Regions from separate parts of the Homo sapiens genome. Here region 2 is reported to be linked to region 1. The links are microRNA targets in miRTarBase. Many come from high-throughput screens and were not tested one by one. Region 1 holds a microRNA gene; the other region holds the end of a gene's coding sequence.

Evidence for each region. Region 1 holds the annotated microRNA hsa-miR-2116-3p (CCUCCCAUGCCAAGAACUCCC, at 3,013-3,033, opposite strand). A microRNA usually pairs through its seed, bases 2 to 8, with sites in the 3' UTR of a target mRNA and lowers its output. Matches are read on the target gene's strand: a 7mer-m8 pairs with bases 2 to 8, a 7mer-A1 pairs with bases 2 to 7 and ends in A, and an 8mer does both.
Region 2: the mRNA of LRRC15 is a reported target of hsa-miR-2116-3p. Seed matches in the 3' UTR shown: 8mer at 1,416-1,423.

Annotation. Positions count from the first base shown.
Region 1 is chr15:59,168,180-59,172,587 of GRCh38, forward strand. MIR2116 (microRNA 2116) reads right to left here and starts at 3,083; the gene lies at 3,004-3,083. It overlaps MYO1E (myosin IE), which reads right to left. Exons shown (of 28, transcript NM_004998.4): 22 at 3,718-3,863.
Region 2 is chr3:194,356,509-194,359,508 of GRCh38, reverse strand. LRRC15 (leucine rich repeat containing 15) reads left to right here. Exons shown (of 2, transcript NM_130830.5): 2 at 1-3,000. The coding sequence ends at 211. Among named protein-coding and RNA genes, the nearest start is that of CPN2, 6.7 kb to the right of the region's middle.

The DNA.
Region 1 (4,408 bases):
ACTTCTAAAAATTTAACATCTACTGGAGGATTAGAAAAACATTTTATTATGGAAAATTCTAAATTGTAAACAAGTAGGATAGTAGGGCCAGGTGCAGTGGCTCATGCCTGTAATCCTAGCACTTTGGGAGGCGAGGTGGGTAGATCCCATGAGCCCAGGAATTGGAGACCAGCCTGGGTAACATGGGGAAACCGTGTCTCTACAAAAAATACAAAAATTAGCCAGAAGTGGGGGTACATGCCTGTAGTCTCAGATACTTAGGGGGCTGAGGTGGGAGGATTGCTTGAACCTGGAGGGCGAGGCTGCAGTGAGCCGAGATTGCGCCACTGCACTCCAGCCTGGGTGGCAAAGTGAGACCCCGTCTCAAAAAAATAAAAAGTAGTATAGAATGAACCACCACATGTCAGATTTCAAGCACCAATTCACGGATAATCACAATTATCTACAACCTCACTCTCCCTGCTTCCACTTTAAAATAACTACCAGGCTGGAGTGCAGTGGTATGATCATGACTCATTGCAGCCTTGACCTATTGGGCTCAAGCAATCCTCCCACCTCAGCTTCCTGAGTAGCTGGGACCACGGGCACGTACCACCACTCCTGGCTAATTTTCACATTTTTTGTAGAGATGGGTTCTTACTATGTTGCCCAGGTGGGTCCCAAACCTCCTGGGGTCAAGCGAGCCTCCTGCCTTGGTCTCCCAAAGTGCTGGGATTACAGGCGTGGGTCACTGCGCTCAGCCTTTATTTCATGCTCAAATGTTTCAGTACATATTATTAAAAGATAAAGTCTCTTTATATTAAAATTAACCACAAAACATTATCATACCTACAGAAATAAACAATAAATTCTTCATACCAAATATTTAGTCATGCTCACATGTTGTCTTGTAACTGTTACTGAATGGTTGGTTGGTTTGAATAGGGAGCTGTAGGCCCACTGTGCACTGACATTAATTGTAAGAGCTAGAGATGGGCTAAGATCAAGCTTATGGGATACTTTGATAAATCGTAACTAGGAGGCCATATGTTGATATCATTCCAGCCAATAGTCAACTGGTCAATCTCAGAAATTCTTAAAAACACATACAGATGTTGCAGCTTTTTTCCTGAAGTACAAGCCAACTGTTAAAATCTTTCTCTATGCCAGTACTGAAGTATTTTGAGAACACACACGCATGTTCAGTAGTCTGGTACCAGAATTAATTTCCACTCTGGGTTCGATTCTGCACACACATCACCCTCTGGTTGCTTTCCTAACTTGGTTCTGATTACTGGCCTAACTCAAGTATAAAGAAATGAGGGGACACTATTATTCATCTTGGCAAGTGTGAGGTTCAGTGACTGCAATACACAGACATCACAAGTTCAAATGACTCACACTTTCTTTTTTTTTCCTTAGAGTCAGAAAAACTTTTAGGCTAAGTACCTCATTTTACTACAGCCTTTAAAAAGGAAAGACCGCAAGAAAGGAACCTTCCAGATAATGAATACTGAACAGGAAGAAGAAAAAGAAGCTGGTGCTCCCATGACAGATTATATCCCCAGAGGCTGTAAAAGAAGACAATAAACAAACAAAAAACAATAAAAGGAAGAAATTTGAGTGTGAACAGTCCCTACAGTCCCTGCTTGACAACCCCCTCAAGGACTTATCAATAAGATAGTAAGTGTCAAAGTGCTTGATACAAGTGTAGCTCAAGGCCAGGCACGGTGGCTCACGCCTCTAATCCCAGCACTTTGGGAGGCTGAGATGAGTGGATCACTTGAAGTCGGGAGTTCAAGACGAGCCTGGCCAACGTGGTGAAACCTTGTCTCTCACTAAAAATACAAACATTAGCCAGGGGTGGTGGCTCAGGCCTGTAATCCCAGCTACTCGGGAGCCTGAGGCAGGAGAACCACTTGGACCAGGGAGGCAGAAGTTGCAGTGAGCTGAGATCACGCCACTGCACTCCAGCCTGGGTGACAGAGCGAGACTCTGTCTAAAACAAAACAAAACAAAACAAAACAAAACAACCACACAAATGTAGCTCAATTAGGATAATTTATGGTCCCAGTCATGAGCACTCCACCAGGGGTCTGAGGGACTGAAGACATACCTGGGCAATAACAGAAAGAACAAGTCACTCTCGGCACAGCGACTACACACACCCTAGAGCTGTGGTTCCCTGACTTTCACCTGCTGTGCCTGCCAAGCACGCTGTGGCCAACCTGGCTTAGTCCAGGCATGGCAGGGCCCCATGCAATGACAAACAAAGCAGGAGCTTCCTGTTGGGTTTCCACGGCAGCCTCAGGGCCCAGCTAGCCAGGAAGAGTGTGGCCAGCAGGCACTGCCCCGCTCAGGTTGGGACCCAGCCAGTGAGCTGAATGTTTAGGAAGGCCTTCAGAAAATCAGTCAGCGCCTAGAGCTTTAAAAAAAAAACAAAAAAAACAATAGCCTTGAAACCTACCTGAGGTGGGGCTGCAAAATGGACACTGCGGACTCATCTGCTTAGCAACTTTACCACATCCTGAGTTGGCACGTTTTAAATACTTCACTGCACTGCACTGCCTGGTCCTTTATCCAGGGAAATTAGGAACAGATAGAATCAGAAACCACAGAGACACAGGCAAGAATGGATGCAACTAGAAATCTGTTTTGGATTATCAGACTGGAACTAGGATTTCCAGCTTGGTACATCAGACGCCTGAGCACATAAAACCCCTGCTTTTTCCTGAGCGCACCAGTTTTGCCTTCTGTGTGGAGTAAGAGTTTGACAGGCGTCCCAATTCCATGTTCATGTGAGAGCAGAACATCTTTAATGCAAAGGCCCAAAGCTTTTCCTGATTAAAGTAGTGTTAGCCTCAGAGGCCCAGGGACACGATTCTTGGAGGAAGCTATGGGGCTCAAGGAGGCCTTTCTTCCATTCTTAGTCTTCATGGATTGCGAGGATTTCCTGTGTCAGCGGAACTTAGTCTAGGAGTTCTTACCATGGGAGGACTTCGGGAGGACTTAGCATGGGAGGACTCCTAGTCTGGGAGTTCTTGGCATGGGAGGACTTCTTAGCATGGGAAGACCTCCTATGCTAAGAACCCCTAGCCTAGGTCCCACTGACGGAGGAGATGCTGACGGCCGGCAGAGGAGCCCTTCTGCCGAGAGGAAGCCAAGGTGCTGCCGGGAGGAGCAAGGGCCCTTCCTGAGGCCTTGTGGAAGCAAACACCACTCCCCACTGCCTGAGAATTGGAGCGAAGAGAGCATCTCACGATGACTCCAGGGCTACAGAGAATGGAGACCAACTTGCACTCCCTAAGGAAGTCCCAAAGAAACTTCCCTTTCAGGACCCTCTGCTCAGGGAAATGGGTGAGGCCTCCAACCTGGGTGAGGTGGACTGGGGGACAGGGCTCTGAATCCTTGGCTCTACTGCAACAAGAGAAATTATTCTCTGAGGTGTTCCATATACCGGGTTCATTTCTAACACGTTTCGGTTACAAGAGATCTGGGTCCCCCTTGATTAGAGGAGCTGTCCGGAGGCAACCTTTTCTTGGTACCTTCTTCCTGACATATCAAGACTTGCTGAGACTAGGGAGTCTTCCCTTTGGGACAAAGGGAAATTCCATTCTCTTGATCATGATTTTGACAGCTGGGAAGCCCAGCCCGGCCTTCCTCCTGGCTGTTTGGAACAGCGGACCGTGATGCTGAGGCGAGAAGGGGCAGTCCTGCCTCTGCACCTCCACTACTCACCTGAGGGACACAGACAAGATCCGTTCTATCTCGATTTTCCGCTTCAGGACTTCTTTCACCAGGCCCTTGTCTGGGCCCTGTTTGACTTTTTCTCGTCCGATTAAGTACAAGCACTTTGGGGTAAGGAGCAGGTCTCGCTTTACACCCTGTAAGGAGAGGAGCTTTAAGAAGCTGGACAGGCCAGGCATGGTGGCTCACACCTGTAATCCCAGTACTTTCGGAGGCCGAGGCGGGTGAATCACCTGAGGTCAGGAGTTCGAGACCAGCCTGACCAACATGGTGAAACCCCGTCTCTACTGAAAATACAAAAATTAGCTGGGTGTGGTGGTGGGCGCCTGCAATCCCAGCTACTTGGGAGGCTGAGGCAGGAGAATCGCTTTAACCTGGGAGGTGGAGGTTGCAGTGAGCCGAGATTGCGCCATTGCACTCCAGCCTGGGTGACAGAGCAAGACTCCGTCTCAAAAAAAGGTGGACAGACATGGTCAATGTGATGACAACAATTCACACAGTGGACTGCTGTTACCAGGACAGGGGGAAGCTGCCTTGGACAGTCAATCTTCACTACTGTTGAGAGGCCATTCCATTCATCACATGACCGGGCCCCATGACAGTGAAAGAGGGCATTGTTCATGATTATTAGGATGACATGTAAAAAATGATGACATTTGACTCTTTTTGACTTAAAAACTGG
Region 2 (3,000 bases), not on the chromosome of region 1:
GGAAGACTACACTGATCTGACTACCATTCAGGTCACTGATGACCGCAGCGTTTGGGGCATGACCCAGGCCCAGAGCGGGCTGGCCATTGCCGCCATTGTAATTGGCATTGTCGCCCTGGCCTGCTCCCTGGCTGCCTGCGTCGGCTGTTGCTGCTGCAAGAAGAGGAGCCAAGCTGTCCTGATGCAGATGAAGGCACCCAATGAGTGTTAAAGAGGCAGGCTGGAGCAGGGCTGGGGAATGATGGGACTGGAGGACCTGGGAATTTCATCTTTCTGCCTCCACCCCTGGGTCCATGGAGCTTTCCCGTGATTGCTCTTTCTGGCCCCAGAGAAAGGTGAGCCTACCTCTTCCTGACTTGCCTGATTCTCCCGTAGAGAAGCAGGTCGTGCCGGACCTTCCTACAATCAGGAAGATAGATCCAACTGGCCATGGCAAAAGCCCTGGGGATTTCCGATTCATACCCCTGGGCTTCCTTCGAGAGGGCTCTTCCTCCAAATCCTCCCCACCTGTCCTCCAAGAACAGCCTTCCCTGCGCCCAGGCCCCCTCCGGGCCTCTGTAGACTCAGTTAGTCCACAGCCTGCTCACTTCGTGGGAATAGTTCTCCGCTGAGATAGCCCCTCTCGCCTAAGTATTATGTAAGTTGATTTCCCTTCTTTTGTTTCTCTTGTTTGTGCTACGGCTTGACCCAGCATGTCCCCTCAAATGAAAGTTCTCCCCTTGATTTTCTGCTCCTGAAGGCAGGGTGAGTTCTCTCCTCAAAGAAGACTTCAAACCATTTAACTGGTTTCTTAAGAGCCGTCAATCAGCCTGGTTTTGGGGATGCTATGAAAGAGAGAAGGAAAATCATGCCGCTCAGTTCCTGGAGACAGAAGAGCCGTCATCAGTGTCTCACTTGTGATTTTTATCTGGAAAAGGAAGAAACACCCCAGCACAGCAAGCTCAGCCTTTTAGAGAAGGATATTTCCAAACTGCAAACTTTGCTTTGAAAAGTTTAGCCCTTTAAGGAATGAAATCATGTAGAATTTTGGACTTCTAAAAACATTAAAATCAGCTTATTAATACGGGATAGAGAAAGAAATCTGGTGCCTGGGGGTCCCTGTGTTCACCCCTAGAGTTTGTTTTAAAATTTTTAATTGAAGCATGTGAAGTGTACGTGCAGAAAAGTGGGAACATGATAGTGTATGGCTTGGTGGATTTTCACAAACTGAACATACCTGTGTAATCAGCATCTAGACCCAGACCCAGAGCATCACAAATATCCCCCATCCTGGGCTTTTCCCAGAGGAGATGGGGGCTTCTGAAGATGGACTTACCTGGGACCTGCCCCCCATGAGCCAGGACGGTCCCCCCACAGTCAGCCTGTGCAAAGGCCCCGTGGCCAGGGGTGGAGGAGAATATGTGGGTGTGGACAGGATGGGAGACTGTGGCCTGAACAGGAGATTTTATTATATCTGGAGACCCTGAGAGACCCTGAGACCTGGGGCACCATGGCTGGCCAGGTCAGAAGCATCCTGACTGCAGAGGTCCGTGCAGCCACACCCTCTTCCCTGCCAGCAAGCTGTCTGCGGCTCATCGGAGGCCCCTCCGCCTGGAGCCTTCTATGGACGTGATATGCCTGTATCTGTTTTTAATTTTCATTCTTCACTTAGGGGAAGTGAAATCGCTCAGAGATGAGATCCTTTAATTGAAAACGAAGTGTAACGGAATCTAGTGTCTTTCTAATGTGGTAAAATTCTCCATCAACATCACAGTCAGCTGGCAGCTGAACTTCAGAATCTCACTTACAGCAGGCGACACGGGGGTACACCGATGGGTCACACTGGGTCTGGGGGCTCCCTGGAGCTCCTCCTGCGTGTGGTCTGGTTAGGAGTTGAGTTGTTTGCTCCAGGGTTATTCTCCTCCTCGAGTCACAGTCACACGAATACCTGCCTTCTCTGGCTTTCCTGCTATACACATATTCACATGGCGCTCAAGAAGTTAGGCTCATGGCAACGTGTGTCTTTCTCTGGACAACTGGCCCAGTTTACAGTGAAATGGAGAATTTCAGGTCTCCACGTCTGCCCAGGAAAGAACTTCAGCTGACTCCACGGGGATCTGGAAATCCACGACCAATCCCGATCGGCTCTTATTAGCTCCCCGCTCCACAAGACACCTGTGCTTTGGAAATCCACCACCAATCCCGATCGGCTCTTATTAGCTCCCCGCTCCACAAGACACCTGTGATCTGGAAATCTACCACCAATCCCGATCGGCTCTTATTAGCTCCCCGCTCCACAAGACACCTGTGACATCCTCCAGGGCCACAGGAGCACGTGCTGACCAGTTTTCCCTTCCAGTTCCTGCACAAAAAGTGTCCAGAGGGCTGTTTGCAAACACTAGTGCACTTTGTAGCTTTTCACCCTCTGTCCCAGGGAATCTAGGAGAGATGAGGCCCGTCAGAGTCAAGAGATGTCATCCCCCCAGGGTCTCCAAGGCATTTCCACACTATTGGTGGCACCTGGAGGACATGCACCAAGGCTTGCCAGAGCCAACAGGAAGTGAGCCCAGAGCATGGCACATGAGCATCACCCGCTGATGGTGGCCTGCTGTGCCTGGTGCCAACAGGGGCATCCCGGCCCGTACCCCTCCAGACAGGAAGCATGGGTTTGCCCACAGACCTGTCGGGTGCTCCTGTGAGTGGCCTCCAGATGTCTTTGTGCATAGGCACAAGTGGGCCAGGGCTGGAGGGAGGTGGGAAACCTCATCATCCGGTGGGCCCTGCCAATCTTAACCCAGAACCCTTAGGTATTCCTGGCAGTAGCCATGACATTGGAGCACCTTCCTCTCCAGCCAGAGGCTGACCTGAGGGCCACTGTCCTCAGATGACACCACCCAGGAGCACCCTAGGTGAGGGGTGAGGGCCCCCTTATGTGAACCTCTTGCCTCTTCCTTTCTCCCATCAGAGTGGTTGGATGGAGCCATTGGCCTCCTTTTCTTCAGCGGGCCCTTCAACCTCTCT